Linked DNA regions of Homo sapiens. The protein of the gene in region 2 interacts with the protein of the main gene of each other region in a pairwise test. Each region holds a gene or a part of one and is shown on either strand. Other genes may lie near its edges. The genes, in order: GYPC and TSPAN15.

Region 1 (8,084 bases), on a different chromosome or scaffold from region 2:
AGATGTTTCCTGAGTTATTAATAAGCTGCTGAGAAGTGTGGATCTCAAAGAAGGTCGCAGAGCACACAGCACCTCCCAAACTTGGTTGTTCTTCAAACACAGTTTGCAGTCACAGCCATGACCCATGGGGAGCCCCTTGCCCAGGGTTCAAAGCAAGGCAAAGGCAGGATCAAGTTTCCTTGAGGATGGAGGGTTGAGGGTCATGGACCCAGGGCAGAAAATAATGTGGGATGAGGGAGATGGTGGAGAAGTCTAAGTAGCCTGGTCAGTCTACCCTCATCTCACCTCCACCCTCAACCTCCTTCACCAAAACTGCTGCCTCTCCAGCTCCTGAGTTCCTGTGAGTCAAAAGCCCTGAGAAAGGCCAATAAATACATACATAGATACGTACGATGTATGCATGTATATATATATTTACCCAGGGCTAGACTCCTCCATTCCACATTCAAAACCACCTCTGAGGGAGAGAAAAAATGGCCACAGCCACCACTGCCCAAGTCCTTAGGTCAGTTCTCCCCTGGATGTTTTCACCAAGGCCCCCCACCCTGGCTGCTTGAAGGGCTCTGTGATGAGAGCTCACCTGCAATGACGACAATGTCCATTATGGTGGGGGTGGAGGTCTCCATTCTGCCATCCGGCCATCCAGACATCCCTGGATCAGGCTCTGTGAACAGAGGACAAGAATCTGAGGTCAGAGAGGAAGATTCTCCATGCCTAGCAGCACCTTGGCCCAAGCTGCATCCTTTGCTCAGGTGTGAGCAGCTCTGAGAATGGGTCCAAGTGGAAAGGAGCAGTGCGGCGCACCCACTGCTCCTAGCAGGGATGCACAGACCAGGAACCAGGTTCTGCTTGGTCACTGACTGGGATGGAACTGTTTGAACCTGAACCACCAGGTCACTCCAGGCCCATTTGAGTTATCTGCCTAATGCCTGCACTGAGAGTGGTGCTGCACGTGGTAGATGCTCAACAGATATCTGTGCTGTGTATGAAGGCAGGGACTCTTGTTGTGTTTAAGAAAGAATGTTTGTGGAGTGTCTGATGCTCACACCAGGTGTCTCAGTCCATTTTGTGTTGCTATAGCTGAATACTTGGGTAATTTATAAAGAAGAGAGGTTTATTTGGCTCACAGTTCTAGTGGCTGGGAAGTCCAAATTGGGCAGCTGCATCTGGTGAGGGCCTCATACTACTCCCACTCATGGCAAAAAGCAGAAGGGGATCTGACATTCGCAAAGAGACCACAAGGTGATATAGAAAGCAAGAGAGTTTAGAAAGCTGAATTTGCTTTTATAACAACCTGCTCTCCAGTGACTAATCCAGTCTCACGACAGCTAGAACTCCCTCCCTCCCTCAAGGGGGTATTAATGTATGCATGAGGGATCTGCCCCTGTGACTCAAATATCTCCCACTAGGTCCCACCTCCCATCACTGCCACCTTGGGAATCAGATTTCAACATGAGCTTTTGCAGGGTCAAACCACATCCAAACCATAGCACCAGGTGTTGCTTTAACTGCCTTCTATCTACTCTATCATGCAGTCTTCACATCCATCCTATGAGGTGCCTGGTGTTAATGGCCCATCTCACAGGAAGAACACCAAGGTTCAGAGACGTGATGTGCCCTTGATCACACAGCTCATCCGATATCAGGTCAGGACTTGGCCAGTGCTCTTGCCTCTGGAGTGCACTTTCTCTCTTGGAGAAGCCCTTCCCAGGGCTCCTGTCTGAGGAGTCATTCCTGAAGCCCTCCCATAGGTCTTTACATTGACTCTGCTGTGGGAAGGACCACTCTATGACACTATCCAAGTTACTGAGTGTGTTTTTTCACAGCTTAATGACCTGGCCAAAGAGGGTAGGATGTCTAGGACATTGGGGACCGGGATGTTTCCTAGAGCTGCTGCACAGAATGCCTTCTCTCCTCTGGGAGATGATTGTGAAGAAGGATTTATTGGATCACAGAAATATCAGTGTTAACATAGGAAATCCCACGTTCCCATTACAATGGCTCTACATAATAAAACAGAGAAGGATGCTTCATAATAGTCATTTCCACTCAGATAATCACTTTAATTATAGTGCTATGAGGTCATTCTCCCCAGTGCAGCTGCCAGATGCCTCTTTCTTATAAGTAACTGCCTGCTGGAGTCAGGAGTCATAATGGGTGAGGGGAAAACAGACTCCCAGCTAGGGGTCCACAGCAGGACACAGATGGGCCAAGCTAGGGGTGTCTGGGGCCACCAAGGAGCTTGGAGGTGGGGAAGAAGATAATACAAGGCACTGAGGCAGCCCAGGGACCCAGTGAACACTGGCTCAGGATCTGGGTCTCGGGAGCCAGGAACCAGGCAGGGTATAGGATCCAGCATTCACGGTGTTTCTCAGTAGCAAGACCTGAAGCAAGGGCCGTAGCAAGTTCAAGTGGGTGCTAGACTTTATTATATAGAGTGAACAAGTGCAGCCTCCAGTTTAGTATCTAGCACATAGTAGGTACTCAATAAATATTCACTGAATGCATGAGTAAATGCATGCATATATAAATGAATGGATTTAGTGGTGGGGTTCTAGACTTTTCCAATCAACAAGCACCTCAAAGTTCAGAAAGAAAGAATAACACCTTGCTTAAGTAGGCATGGATGGTTATAGAAGCTCAAATACCCAGAACTGCCCTCAGAAATTTTCCAGGTGAAGACAGCATTTATTAGGACAGTTTGTCCAACACAATCAGCGTTAGAAGAGACTGTTATTTCCTCTTCCTTTAAAACAACTAACAATCGCTTACTAGGTGCCAGGTGCAGGTCTCAACATTTAAAGCAATTTAACATGGTCCTTGCAACAGTTGCAAGAACACTGCTTGGAGATTATTCATTCTAAAACCAGGGAAGTCCCAGAAAACAGGGCAGAGCTGGTTGCTGTATGTACACTATACAGGGGGAAAAATGAGGCTATTAACTGTGCTTGGGGCAGGTTGTGTGGTTTGTGTTTTTCAATGGCCCGATGACTGCTCCTCAGCCTACCCTGCTCCCATTCCCTCCTGGCGATTGAGGACTGGGGTGAGTCTGCAGGAGGAGCAGGACTTGGCCACACAAAGGACTGAAGTGGGAGAGGGTAACGCAGAGAATGCCAAGGTGTTGGCTGTGCGAGGGGCAGTCACCCCTCACTTCTGCTGGGACTCCAGAGGGGTGGGGAAGTACAGTGTAAGGCTGCTCAGGAGGGGTCAGATCACTCAGGACCTTGAGAGTGAGGGGGCAGCAGTCTCATGGGGTGGGGGTGTTTTGAGTTTGGGCATTTACTTTGAAGCTGCAGAGCAAGCCTCTGTCTTTTCTTAGAATGCAGGTTTATTTGGAGGCCTTGGGGAGGGACTGCTGAAGAATATGGAAAGTCTGAAACTGCTCCCAAGTCCCACCTTTATAGAACAATTTCCTAAACTTCCTACTGCCTTCAGGGGAACACTTGTATCTGCATAATGTTAATAATATCACCTAGGAAGAATAAAAGCTCAGTGGTGCAATGAGTTGGAGAATGCCAGGTTACACAGAGTCCAACAGGTGTCTTTGATTGCTTGCTTCTGCTGCTTTTTCTTTCTTTTCAAATTGTAGATGTTTCCTGAGTTATTAATAAGCTGCTGAGAAGTGTGGATCTCAAAGAAGGTCGCAGAGCACACAGCACCTCCCAAACTTGGTTGTTCTTCAAACACAGTTTGCAGTCACAGCCATGACCCATGGGGAGCCCGTTGCTCAGGGTTCAAAGCAAGGCAAAGGCAGGCTCAAGTTTCCTTGAGGATGGAGGGTTGGGGGTCATGGACCCAGGGAAGAAAATAATGTGGGATGAGGGAGACGGTGGAGAAGTCTAAGTAGCCTGGTCAGTCTACCCTCATCTCACCTCCACCCTCAACCTCCCTCACCAAAACTGCTGCCTCTCCAGCTCCTGAGTTCCTGTGAGTCAACAGCCCTGAGAAAGGCCAATAAATATAAATACAGATACATATGACATACCTATGTATATTTATTTACCCAGGGGTAGACTCCTCCATTCCACATTCAAAACCACCTCTGAGGGAGAGAAAAAATGGCCACAGCCACCCCTGTCCAAGTCCTTAGGTCAGTTCTCCCCTGGATGTTTTCACCAAGTCCCCCAACCCTGGCTGCTTAAAGGGCTCTGTGATGAGAGCTCATCTGAAGTCACGGCAGTTTCCATTATGGTGAGGCTCTGTGATGAGAACTCACCTGCAATGGTGGTAGTATGCATTGTGGTGGAGGCAGAGGCCATCCCCGGATCAGGCTCTGTGAACAGAGGACAAGAATCTGAGGTCAGAGAGGAAGACTCTCCATGCCTAGCAGCACCTTGGCCCAAGCTGCATCCTTTGCTCAGGTGTGAGCAGCTCTGAGAATGGGTTCAAGTGGACAGAGACAGTGTGGTGCACCCACCGACTCCTAGCAGGGGTGCACAGACCAGGAACCAGGTTCTGCTTGGTCACTGACTGGGATGGAACTGTTTGAACCTGAACCACCAGGTCACTCCAGGCCCATTTAAGTTCTCTGCAGTATGCCTCCACTGAGAGTGGTGCCTGCATGTGGTAGATGCTCAACAGATATCTGTGCTGTGTATGAAGGCAGGGACTCTTGTTGTGTTTAAGAAAGAATGTTTGTGGAGTGTCTGATGCTCACACCAGGTGTCTCAGTCCAATTTGAGTTGCTATAGCTGAATACTTGGGTAATTTGTAAAGAAGAGAGGTTTGTTTGGCTCACAGTTCTAGTGGCTGGGAAGTCCAAATTGGGCAGCTGCATCTGGTGAGGGCCTCATACTGCTCCCACTCATGGCAAAAAGCAGAAGGGGATCTGACATTCGCAAAGAGACCACAAGGTGATATAGAAAGCAAGAGAGTTTAGAAAGCTGAATTTGCTTTTATAACAACCTGCTCTCCAGTGACTAATCCAGTCTCACGACAGCTAGAACTCCCTCCCTCCCTCAAGGGGGTATTAATGTATGCATGAGGGATCTGCCCCTGTGACTCAACTATCCCCCACTAGGTCCCACCTCCCATCACTGCCACCTTGGGAACCAAATTTCAACATGAGCTTTTGCAGGGTCAAACCACATCCAAACCATAGCACCAGGTGTTGCTTTAACTGCCTTCTATCTACTCTATCATGCAGTCTTCACATCCATCCTATGAGGTGCCTGGTGTTATTGGCCCATCTCACAGGAAGAACACCAAGGCTCAGAGACGTGATGTGCCCATGATCACACAGCTCATCCGGTATCAGGTCAGGACTTGGCCAGTGCTCTTGCCTCTGGAGTGCACTTTCTCTCTTGGAGAAGCCCTTCCCAGGGCTCCTGTCTGAGGAGTCATTCCTGAAGCCCTCCCATAGGTCTTTACATTGACTCTGCTGTGGGAAGGACCACTCTATGACATTATCCAAGTTACTGAGTGTGTTTTTTCACAGCTTAATGGCCTGGCCAAAGAGGGTAGGATGTCTAGGACATTGGGGACCTGATGTTTCCTAGAGCTGCTGCACAGAATGCCTTCTTTCCTCTGGGAGATGATTGTGAAGAAGGATTTATTGGATCACAGAAATATCAGCATTAACATAGGAAATCCCGTATTCCCATTACAATGGCTCTACATAATAAAACAGAGAAGGATGCTTCATAATAGTCATTTCCACTCAGATGATCACTTTAATTATAGTGCTATGAGGTCATTCTCCCCAGTGCAGCTGCCAGATGCCTCTTTCTTATAAGTAACTGCCTGCTGGAGTCAGGAGTCATAGTGGGTGAGGGGAAAACAGACTCCCAGCTAGGGGTCCACAGCAGGAAGCAGGTGGGCCAAGCTAGTGGTGTCTGGGGCCACCAAGGAGCTTGGAGGTGGGGAAGAAGATAATACAAGGCACTGAGGCCGCCAAGAGACCCAGTGAACTCTGGGTCTGGAGTCAGCACCTTGGGAACCAGGAACCAGGCAGGGTAGAGGATCCAGCATTCACAGTGCTTCTCAGTAGCAAGACCTGAAGCAGGAGCCATAGCAAGTTCAAGTGGGTGCTAGACTTTATTACAGTGAACAAGTGCAGCCTCCAATTTAGTATCTAGCTCATAGTAGGTACTCAATAAATATTCACTGAATGCATGAGTAAATGCATGCATGTATAAATGAATGGATTTAGTGGTGGAGTTCTAGACTTTTCTAACCACTATGCACCTCAAAGTTCGGAAAGAAAGAATAACATCTTGCTTAAGTAGGCATGGATGGTTATAGAAGCTCAAATACCCAGAACTGCCCTTAGAAATTTTCCAGGTAAAGACCAGCATTTCTTATGACAGTTTGTCCAACACAATCAGGGTTAGAAGGGACTGTTATTTTCCCTTCCTTTAAAACAGTTAATAATTTCATACTAAATGCCAGGTGCTGCTCTCAACATTTAATGTATTTTAACTCAGACCTTGCAACATTTCCATTCGATAGGAGTTATTATTAGCCCCATTTTCCAGATTTGGCAGCTGCGTCCCAGAAAAGTGTTATTTTCCCCGGCTTGTACCTTGAGAGTCAGAAGTCAATCATTTGAAGCCCTGGCAGCCTTGAGTCAGTGTGTTTAGCCTTACAGGGCACTGCAAAGTGTAGAGCCTTGGTAAGCTGGTTTCCAGGTGAGATATTTGGCTTGAACAACTTGGGGTGCATTTCTTGGCTTCTGGTTAGGGACCTTGTACTCAAATCTGTATACTGGGAGACTACACACACTTCCAGCAGGGCAGCCAGGCTGGGAGGGGAGGTAGGACCTGAGAGCTTCGGGGCCTCATTGGGAGACCATTGGGATTGCCAGCTGGGCCTCCCAATGTGGGCTCCCTCCAAGCTCATGCCCTCTGAGGAGCGTGGTGGGCAGGAAAGTTCCCTCAGCTGGAACTACTCTCTCCATGCCCCCCACCCCACCAAGTGTGTGGAGCTGAATTTACACATGTTTCACAATGTGACAGACTCCAGGGGAGTGACATTTCAGCCCAACCAGAGCTGCCCTATATTGATAGATCAGAATCAGCATAGAGAGGAAGCTCAAGGCTGTCTGGGAAGGTGTGGATGCTGTGAGACAGCAATTCTCAAAGCATAGTCTCTGGATACACAGCATCCTCTGGGAGCCTGTTAGAAATAGAAATTCTCAGGCCCCAGCCCAGACCTACTGAAGAAAAACACTAGGACTGGGACCCAGTAATTACTATAGTAGATTCTGATTCATGCTGTAGGCTGGGAAGTGCTGGTGTAAAGAGGGCTTCCAGAAGCGGTGACATCAGGATTAGTCCTTTAAGGGCAAATAGGAGTTTGCTGCACAAAGCCTATAAGCATTCCAGGCAGAGAGCTCAGCATCTAAGGCAGCTCTCCCCACTTCTCAGCTTTCTCCCCAGTGTCTGCTTGCCATCCACGGCTCCAAGGCTCCGGAAGCCTCTGGAGATGGAGGGGTGAGAGCCCCCCTTGGCGCACTCCCTTACACTGTACCCATTCAGCTAGCAGCAGTGATATCAGGTCTTTGGAGAAGACTGGCTGAGTGAGCTCAGATCCAGCCCAGAAAGTAGGTGGTTGGTCTGCATCCAGCTTAAGGGGCCTGGAATGAAAGCCTGCCCCTTGCTGGAGCTGAGGGATACTTCTGAGGTTGAGATTAGGATCATGCTGAGCTCAGCAACTAGGATGGGGGTGATCTGCGGGCAGCCTTGGGGGTGGGTTCATGGCAGAATAAGGTGTTGATTACGGCCAAGCTTGGGTCTGGTATCAGAAATAGACAATTACCCAGCACAACGATTGGACAGACATGAGAGGACCTATTTTTTGGAAAGACCCAAGCATCCTACTTTTTTTCTTCCCAGCCCTCCTCCAGGTTGCAAGGTCCCCCCGGCCCCCTGCAACACCCTACCAGACAGGAAGCTCCACACGTTCAGGCTTGTCTTGCTCACAACTCTATACTCAGCATTAGACTGGGTGCCTGGCACTGAATGACAACTGCTGAATGTTTGAAAGCCTTCTGGGGAACCACGAACCAACTAAACTGCAGCCTTCACTATGCTCATCTTTGTGGAGTTGGGAGTGGCTTTTCATCCATGGGATTTGCCATTGGC
Region 2 (8,084 bases):
ACTTCCTTGAATGTGATGATGATCCTATTCCTTTTGGGACACCATCTCTCCCCTCTAGGTCCACCCAAATCTGTTGGTGCAATAATAATAATAATAATAATAATAATAATAATAATAATAATAATAATAATGGCAGTGGTAGGGCCAGCTGCTGTCCTGGGTGGCTTTTGTACATCAACTTCACTTGGTCCTGAGCCTCAGCTTCCTCACCTACATAAGGGGAATAATGACAGGAGCTCTTGGGGCGTCGTCATGAGGATTACCTTGACTTAATTCAGGAGACGTGCTTAGAACAGTGCCAAGCACAGGGTGAGACCACAGTGCCAGCTGTGGGGATCATTGGTATGTTCTCCTGGGTGAGGACAAGTAGAGTGAGGGCTGCAGGCCCACTCAGCCGGGACAGCACTTCCTGGGACATAATCTTGGGGGCCTCAGCTGGCCTGGATCCTTGTGCCAGCTCTCAGTGGGGACTAGCCTCTCCCCACATGCAGGGCCACTTGCTGTGGCCGCTCCCTTGGCCCAGACTTTCTCTTCAGTCACAACAGGTGCAGCCTCTGGAAGGTCTTTTTCTGCCAGGGATGTGCCTGCCAGCTTGGGCTGGGAGAGCTGACTTCTGCTCCGGGTGGAGTGAGATGTTTTTATTGGAACCAGCCTTTAGCTGGCTTGGGGATTTCATTTCTCCTGGCATAGAGGTAGGAGGTGATTAATGCTGAATGGGCACTTGCTTGGTGCCAGGTCCAGTGCTGAGTGCTTCATGCATGGCACTCTATGTAATCACAGCTCAGCTGTGCAGAGCTGCCATCCTTATTCTTGCTTTACAGACAACCATCTGAGGCTCAGAGAGGCTGACCAACTTGCCTGAGGTTGCACAGCAGGGAGTGGTGGTCTGAGGATTTGACCTTGGGTCTGTTCCATTGCAAGACAAATGCCCTTTGAACTACATTGCAGAAAGACAGTTCTAGGTCCCAAAACCTGGTGGCTTAAGGGGCACTGTGGGGACTCTGAAAGGTGTCTGGCTACCAGGACGTGTACTGCAGCCCTGGTTGAGCCCTCCAGTCCCAGCTCCCTGCTTCAGCTGGCTGGCAAAGCTTTGCATGGTCCAGCCTGTGCCGCCCTTTCATCCTCATGCTCTGCACTCTCTCTGTTCCAGGCTTGTTGGCCTCCGCACCTGCTGCTGAAATACAAGCTTGTTTCTGCGTGGGGCCTTTGCATGGGTCGTCTGGCTTCTTTCTGTTTCCATGTTTCAGATGAAATATCCTCTCTACAAAGAGCCCTTTCATGACCTGCCAACCTAGAGCTGCCCCTCCCCACTTTCCCCCTATTTCTCCATTTCCAGGTTGCACAGCACCTTTCCATCCAGTGCTCACTCTCTGTCTCTCCACTGGAATGTGTTCCACCTGAGCAAGGGCTGCCTTGCTTTTGCTCACCCTGTCTCTCCAGTGCCCAGGACAATGCCAGGCACATACCAGCCATCAGGAGGGTTACCAACTACTTCCTACAGGAGCAGGGAGGGGAGGCAGGGAGGGGCTCGGCTAAGGGGAGAGCTCCAGGCAGGTTGTGAGGTGTGGGTGCTCTCCTTGCTAAGGGCAGGGCCAGCTGAGCTGGACGGGGTGGCTCCTAGGGTGGGTGCGAAGGTTGGTTGAGGTGCAGGGACTTTCACAGAATCATGCTTGGTCTCTGGGACTTTAAGGGCCATCTTTTCCAGCCTAGCACCTGCATTTGGGGACACGAAGATGAAGAAAGTGGAGGCCAGTTGTCAAGGAAGGACCTTTCCTCCCAGTGCCTAGTCACTACCCTGATATCCCACCAAGAGGCAGCCCAGCCTTGGCTTCCATACCTCTCTAGTGACAGGGGGTTCACTACCCTCTAGGCAGCCATGCCACACTTTGACAGCTCTGACTTGAAAGTGTACAGCCTCTCCCTGCCCCAGGGTGACCCACATAATAAACTGCCTCCGTCTCCTGACAGGGCCCCTTCCTGTCGTCTGAGCAGGGCCTGGGCGATGACGGCAGCTCCTCTTTCCTGCTTGCTTCCCTCAGTTCAAGTGCTGTGGCGGGGAGGACTACCGAGATTGGAGCAAGAATCAGTACCACGACTGCAGTGCCCCTGGACCCCTGGCCTGTGGGGTGCCCTACACCTGCTGCATCAGGAACACGGTAGACACTGCTCCTGTGGGGACTGGGGGGCTGTCGGGGACCCCAGGTGGTATAAATGTTCTCTTTTCTCTCTTCCCAACTTGAAGATGGGTGGTGTGGGTGGATGGCAGGGAAGTAGGAGTTGGTGGCAGAGCGGAGGCTTTCCTGATTCTCAAGGGCTCCTGAAAGTGGAGCTTCTGGGGGTCGGGGGTAGGGAGACCATGTCTTTCTTAGTGGTGTTGGTTAAAATCTATTGAGCACCTACCTTGTGCAGGCCTGCTCTGGGCACTTTGGTGGTATTTACTCATTTAGTATTCACGACAACCCTGTGAGGTATGTACTGTTATTTTACCCACTTTACAGATGAGGAAATTGAGGCACTCAAAGGCTGGGTGTCTTGCCCAAGGTTGGCAGGGCTGGGATGAAGTGCAGGCAGCTGTTGCCTGAGCTACACTCTGGAGAACTGTGCAGGCCAGGTGAGGGCAGGAGGGAGAGGTGCCCAGGCCAGGGGAGCTTAGCGGGGGTAGCTGGCTCTGCAGCATTAGTGGAGGCAGGCAGGACCTGCACCTTGGGCATCTCCATTGGTCTTTGGCCTTGAGGTCCTGGTGATCATCAGCAGCAGAGTGCTTGGAAGGGGGTCTGGTGACGTAAATGCCATCCTCTTCCTCTCCCCAGCACGATCCTCTCGGGTCTGTCACCTTGGTCATTTGGGATGATGTCTTGTGTTGTCAGCGCTTAAGTGAAAGGCTTCATCAGTCCTTGTGTTTGACAAATGTGTCCAGAAACTGTTTCAGGATTGGAACGAGGTGGAGAGCTTTGCAATTACTCATGGCCCAGATAGTCATGGAAAGTTTTTCTCCTGACATTGCCACCATTCTGTGCCCACTGCTGGATTCTGTAAACTGAGCAGCTGCGGGTGGGGGCCTCGCCCATGAGTCAGAGAGCCAGTGCCAAGTGCACTAGCTCTAAAAAAGGCCGGGCCAGGAGGGAAGCTTTGTTTGGAAGTGTTAGCTGCCATTTTAGGGTAGTTCTCTGGGAAGTGGGGTGCTGAGGAGTAGCAGAGTTTCCAGAGAGGCCTGCGTGGGGTGATCCTGAACCTCATCACCCAGGGCAGCAGCATCTGAATACCTAAGCTGAGATGTGGAAGCCAAACTTGTATTCATTCATTCATTCATTCATTCAACAAATATTGGCTGAGAACCTACTCTATGCCAGACACATTTCCAGGTTCTGGGGGTGTAGCAAACAAAGTCTCTGCCCGCAAGGAGGTGACATCCTAGTGGAGAAAACTGACAAACAAAATAAGTAAAAGATAGAGGATCATAAATGCTGAGTAGAAAAAGAAAGTAGGGCATGGAGGATTGCAGTTTGGGATACTGAGAAAGGCGGGATCTGGGTGAAGCTCTGAAGAAAGTGAGGAAGGTGTCTGGGGGAGGGGCATTCCTGGCAGCAAGAACAGCTGTGCAAAGGCCCCAGGTGGGAATCACCCCAGGGCGTTTGAGAAATGCACAGAGTGGCTGGAGCAGAGGGAGCACAGCGGAGGATGGTAGGAGGTGGAGTCAGGGAGGTCATGGGTACCCCGAAGGCCACAGGCAGGACTGTGGGGCACCCTTGAGTGATGGACCATACAGGGCTGCATGGAAGAGGGGCACTCTGACTTGGTTTTACAAGAATCAGTCTGGCTGTTGTGAGGGACATGCTAGATGCAGGGATAGAGTTAGGGGCTGATATGCAGTGATCCAGGGGTCATAGGTCATCTTGTCCAGGAAGGTGCTCTTGGATCAACACCTGTGGAAGTGGGAGCCAGAAGCGGGATTGGGCAATGAAGGGAGTTGAGCAGTGATGCAGCCTCAGCTCAGTTCGGCTGGAGGCCTCAGCCACATCTATGAGGACAGCCCTTCAGAGTTGTCCCCTACTGGGGTGAGGGGGCCAGGCCTTCACACTCCCACCCACATTGACCAGGCATTGCATGAGTCCAGTGGTCCACCCAAGAAGGGACTTGCTGGCTCTGTTCAGCCAAGAACAGACTAATACAGCAAGAGGAAAGAGAGGGATTGATTGATGATAAGGAATTGGCTTGTGTAATTATGGAGGCGGGCAAGTCCCAAGATCTGCAGGGTGAGTCGGCAGGCTGGAGACCCAGGAGAGCTGAGGGTGGAGTTCCCATTCAAAGGCTGGTCAGGCTTCAAACCTAGGAAGAGCCAGCATTTCAGTTCAAGCCCGAAGGTAGCCAAGCAGGGAGAATTCTCTTATGGTCACTGAGGAGAGGGCAGTCTTTTGTTCTGTTCAGGCCTTCCCTGATCAGATGAGACCTCTCCCCCTTGGGCAGGGCCATCTGCTTTACTTAGTCTGCTGATTTAAACATTAGCCTCATGCAGAAACACCCCCACAGAGACACCCAGGATAATGTCTGGCCAAATATCTGGGTATCCCATGGCCTGGTCATGTTGACATATAAAATTAATGATCACATGAAGTAGTTATTGCAGGGGGCTGACACCTAAGGGCTCCCCACAGCATCCCTGCACCAGGGAGGGGAAGACAGATGCTTGGAGCTGGGTGGTGGTGGTGGTGGTGGAAGTGGCAAACCGTGGTGACATTCTGGCTGTATTTTGCAAGTAAGCCTACAGGATTTGCTCGCATAGCAGATGTGGGCGATGAATGAAAGAGAGAAATCAAGGAGGATACCCAGGTTTTGGTCTGAGCCACAGGAAAGACGGGGCTGCCACTGCCTGAGAGGGGAGGACTGCAAGGAGGCAGGCTGGGTGACCAGGAGCTCACCGTGGACGTGGGGGGTTTGAGAGCCTGTTCAGCATCCCATCAGGGGTGTCAAAGATGCGGTTGGATATAGGAGTCTGGAGTTCTGGGAACGACTAGGCAAGGGGTGTAAACACGGACATCATCTGCAGATAGGGTAGAATCTAAAGACAGCATCTGAATGAGAGCACTGAGGTAGGGAGGAGCCTTCCCCTGGCCGGGGTTATCTGACCCTGTGTTACACATGACCATTGAGTCTCCCTGTGCCACCACACCTGGATGATTTTCTCTAAATGTGAAACAGGGCGTTCGCTTCCTCCATAGAACTGGTTGATTTGTGTCCAGATCTATTTATTTTACACTGTACTATTCAACCTGGGATTTGAATGAGTACACGGGAAATATGTAGTGTAAAAAACTAAAATAGCATTAAAAATCAGGACTGTGGGAATTGTATTCTCAGATAGGAGGCCTAGATGATGGAGAAAAATATAAAATCCTGCTATCTAAGCCTCAGGACCTCATGGACTCACTGAAAAGGAGCTGAGCCTCGTGTCTGGTGGCTTGGAGCAGGGCTCCCCTACCTCCAGGCCATGAACCAGTACCGGTCAGTGGCTTGTTAGGAACCAGGTCGCACAACAGGAGGTGGGCAGAGGTTGAGGGAGCATTGCCACCTGAGCTACACCTCCTGTCACATCAGCAGCAGCATTAGAGTCGCATAGGAGTGTGAACCCTATTGTAAACTGTGCATGCAAGGGACCTAGGGTGCATGCTCCTTATGAGAATCAAACTAATGCCTGATGATCTGAGGTGGAATGGTTTCATCCCGACACCATCACCCCCCACCCCCCCGCACCCCATCCTGTGGAAAAATTATTTTCCTTGAAACCAGTCTCTGGTGCCAGAAAGGTTGGAGACCACTGGCTTAGAGTTTCCTGGCAACCAAAAGGAAAAGGGAGACATGGTCTGTTACATTGTTACTGTTCAGCAGAACATACCAGCAGAACATACCAGTTCTTCAGGGAAAGTAACCTTTTCCCTAACACTCAGCTTTAAAAGAAATGTCTTATATGAGCTTCCAATAGAGGATTTGAGCCATAGAAGTTCACATAGGGCTGTAAAATCTGGTTATACCAGGATATATCCCTCGGAGATGTTGGTGCAGAGGGCAGCGTGCTTCTACATTAAATGGCTCCAGACTGCTGTGCCTGCTGAGCTCTTGGGACCAATTTTCACGTACCTCCCCTCCCTTGTTGTTGGCTACCCCTTGGGGGCCTGTCGCGAAGGCCCCTCTCCCTGTCCCCATTAGCTGCTCAGTCTTTTCAGGGTGAGAGGATGCACACACAAACATTGCTGTGATCTTCTGGCTGCCCAGGAGTCCCCCTTCTGACTTCCTGTCCTGTGGCCCCGTGCAGGATGGAAGAGGCTACTGGACCCTGGTCTTGGGGCCTGTGAACTTCAGCAGAGCCTCTTGCAGAATATCGATTCTATGGTCAGGCAGGTAAACCCAGGCAGGCTTTACTTTTGGAAAGACTATGGATGCATCGTATCCCCTCACCCCTTGGTGAGGGGCTCTCCTGGCAGGGTGAGGTGAGTCCCCCCTGGGCCTGGAGAAGGGTTCTGGGCTCTGATGCCAGAGAGGCCTCTGCCAGTTGCCTGTGTGCTAAGAGACTCATCCCCCGAGGTCACCAGAGCTGGCCCAGTGAAGTCACTCTTGTCACCTCCCTACGTACCATGCAGCTTACCTATTTGTTATGTTCATTATCTCCCTTTCTACAGTGTAAGTTCCATGAAGGCAGGGACTTTGTCTTGTTGTTCTGTATTTCAAGTGACTAGAACTGGGATTGACATGCAATAGGTGCTCAGTTAATATTTGTTCAATGAACAAATGAATGAACCAATGAGATGGAAAGCACTCACTCCCATCATGTGCCCGTGCACCTGCTCTCCAGGCCTGACCCTCTCCATAGGGGTTGTGTTTATGGCCTGGAAGGGCCAAAAACACTGGCTGACTAATGCCCAGTGGGCACTGGGCATGGCTGGGACTGAGGCTACCTGGAGAACCAGCTAAACCGAGGGAGGTCGTCTTGCCTGCACATCAAGCCCTGACATTTAGAATGACCTAGATGACATCTGAGGCCCAACCCTCTCTCGGAAGGAGAGAAGACACCCTCCCTTTCCTTTGCAGGGGCTGGAATTGTGAACAAATCACGCCAGCCAGCATTCTTGTGCTCCTCCATGTGCCCAGCCCCGTGATAAGCACTTTATATGTGTATCTCACTTTATGTCCAAAACAGCCCTAGGAGGTGGGTTCTGTGATCATCACAACCTATTCATTCATTCATTTTCTCAGTTAACAAATATGTATTGAGTACCTCTGCGTGCCAGTTCCTTAGCAGCCCACCTAAGGTTGGGCTCTGCTCCTAAGTGGCAGAGCAAGATCTGGACCCAGGAAATGTGACACCAGAGGGCACGCTGGGGGCTCTGCTGTTGCCCTCCTGAGTCATCACTGGCGCCTGCAGCACTCACGGCAGCGTTCACTTACATGTAGAGCAGCGGGGCTGGGGGGGACGGTCATGGGCTGGACCAGGAAGTCTCACTCTCTTCCCTGGTGGTTGGAGAAGGAGACCCTGCGGGGCACAGGTGGTGATGGGAAGTGCCCGCGGCAGCCTGTGAGTTAGGGCCTGCCTGGGGAGGGGTTTGATGAGGTCTAGGGCGTGACCACAGGTTTCCCTATGCCTAAATTAATCAGTAGTCGGGAGTTCTGGAGAGCACCTCTCTTCCCAAGAAGGAAGTTTTGGCAGCACTCTCCGCTGGTGGAGCAGTGGTCTATGGAACGGAAGCATGGCCAGGGGCCCTGCCCTGGACCTCAGGTAAACCACAGCTGACCCTGTGCCAGCTGTAGTCTGAAGTTTTCCTCCCCAAGAGCCAGCGGCGCAGGAACAGCCCCACCCCGACCTCTGAGACGGTGTGAGCAAAGCGGTGCTCTGGGGCGGTCATAGCCCGGGAGCGTGGGCAGCACACCTTTCTCTGGGGTCCTGATCTGCTGCTAGTGGAGGGGTGGTTCTCCCAGGTAAAAGTCATGGAACCTGCATTCCTACAGTTTTTTCACGGGGCATTTCTTGGAGGAGGAGGTGGTTATGATGGAGACTCAAGCCAGACTGCCTGGGTCGGAATCTCAGCTCCATCCCT

Evidence for each region.
Region 1: the proteins of TSPAN15 (region 2) and GYPC interact in binary tests that used the Homo sapiens proteins (3 or more experiments, as listed by UniProt).

What each region holds. Positions count from the first base shown.
Region 1 is NC_000002.12:126,686,444-126,694,527, reverse strand, and holds part of GYPC (glycophorin-C), read right to left. Parts: exon of another isoform or gene 7,883-8,084; intron 4,274-7,882; coding exon 4,217-4,273; intron 665-4,216; coding exon 581-664; intron 1-580. UniProt on the Homo sapiens protein: This protein is a minor sialoglycoprotein in human erythrocyte membranes. The blood group Gerbich antigens and receptors for Plasmodium falciparum merozoites are most likely located within the extracellular domain.
Region 2 is NC_000010.11:69,496,241-69,504,324, forward strand, and holds part of TSPAN15 (tetraspanin-15), read left to right. Parts: intron 1-1,968; coding exon of another isoform or gene 1,969-2,039; coding exon 2,040-2,156; intron 2,157-8,084. UniProt on the Homo sapiens protein: Part of TspanC8 subgroup, composed of 6 members that interact with the transmembrane metalloprotease ADAM10.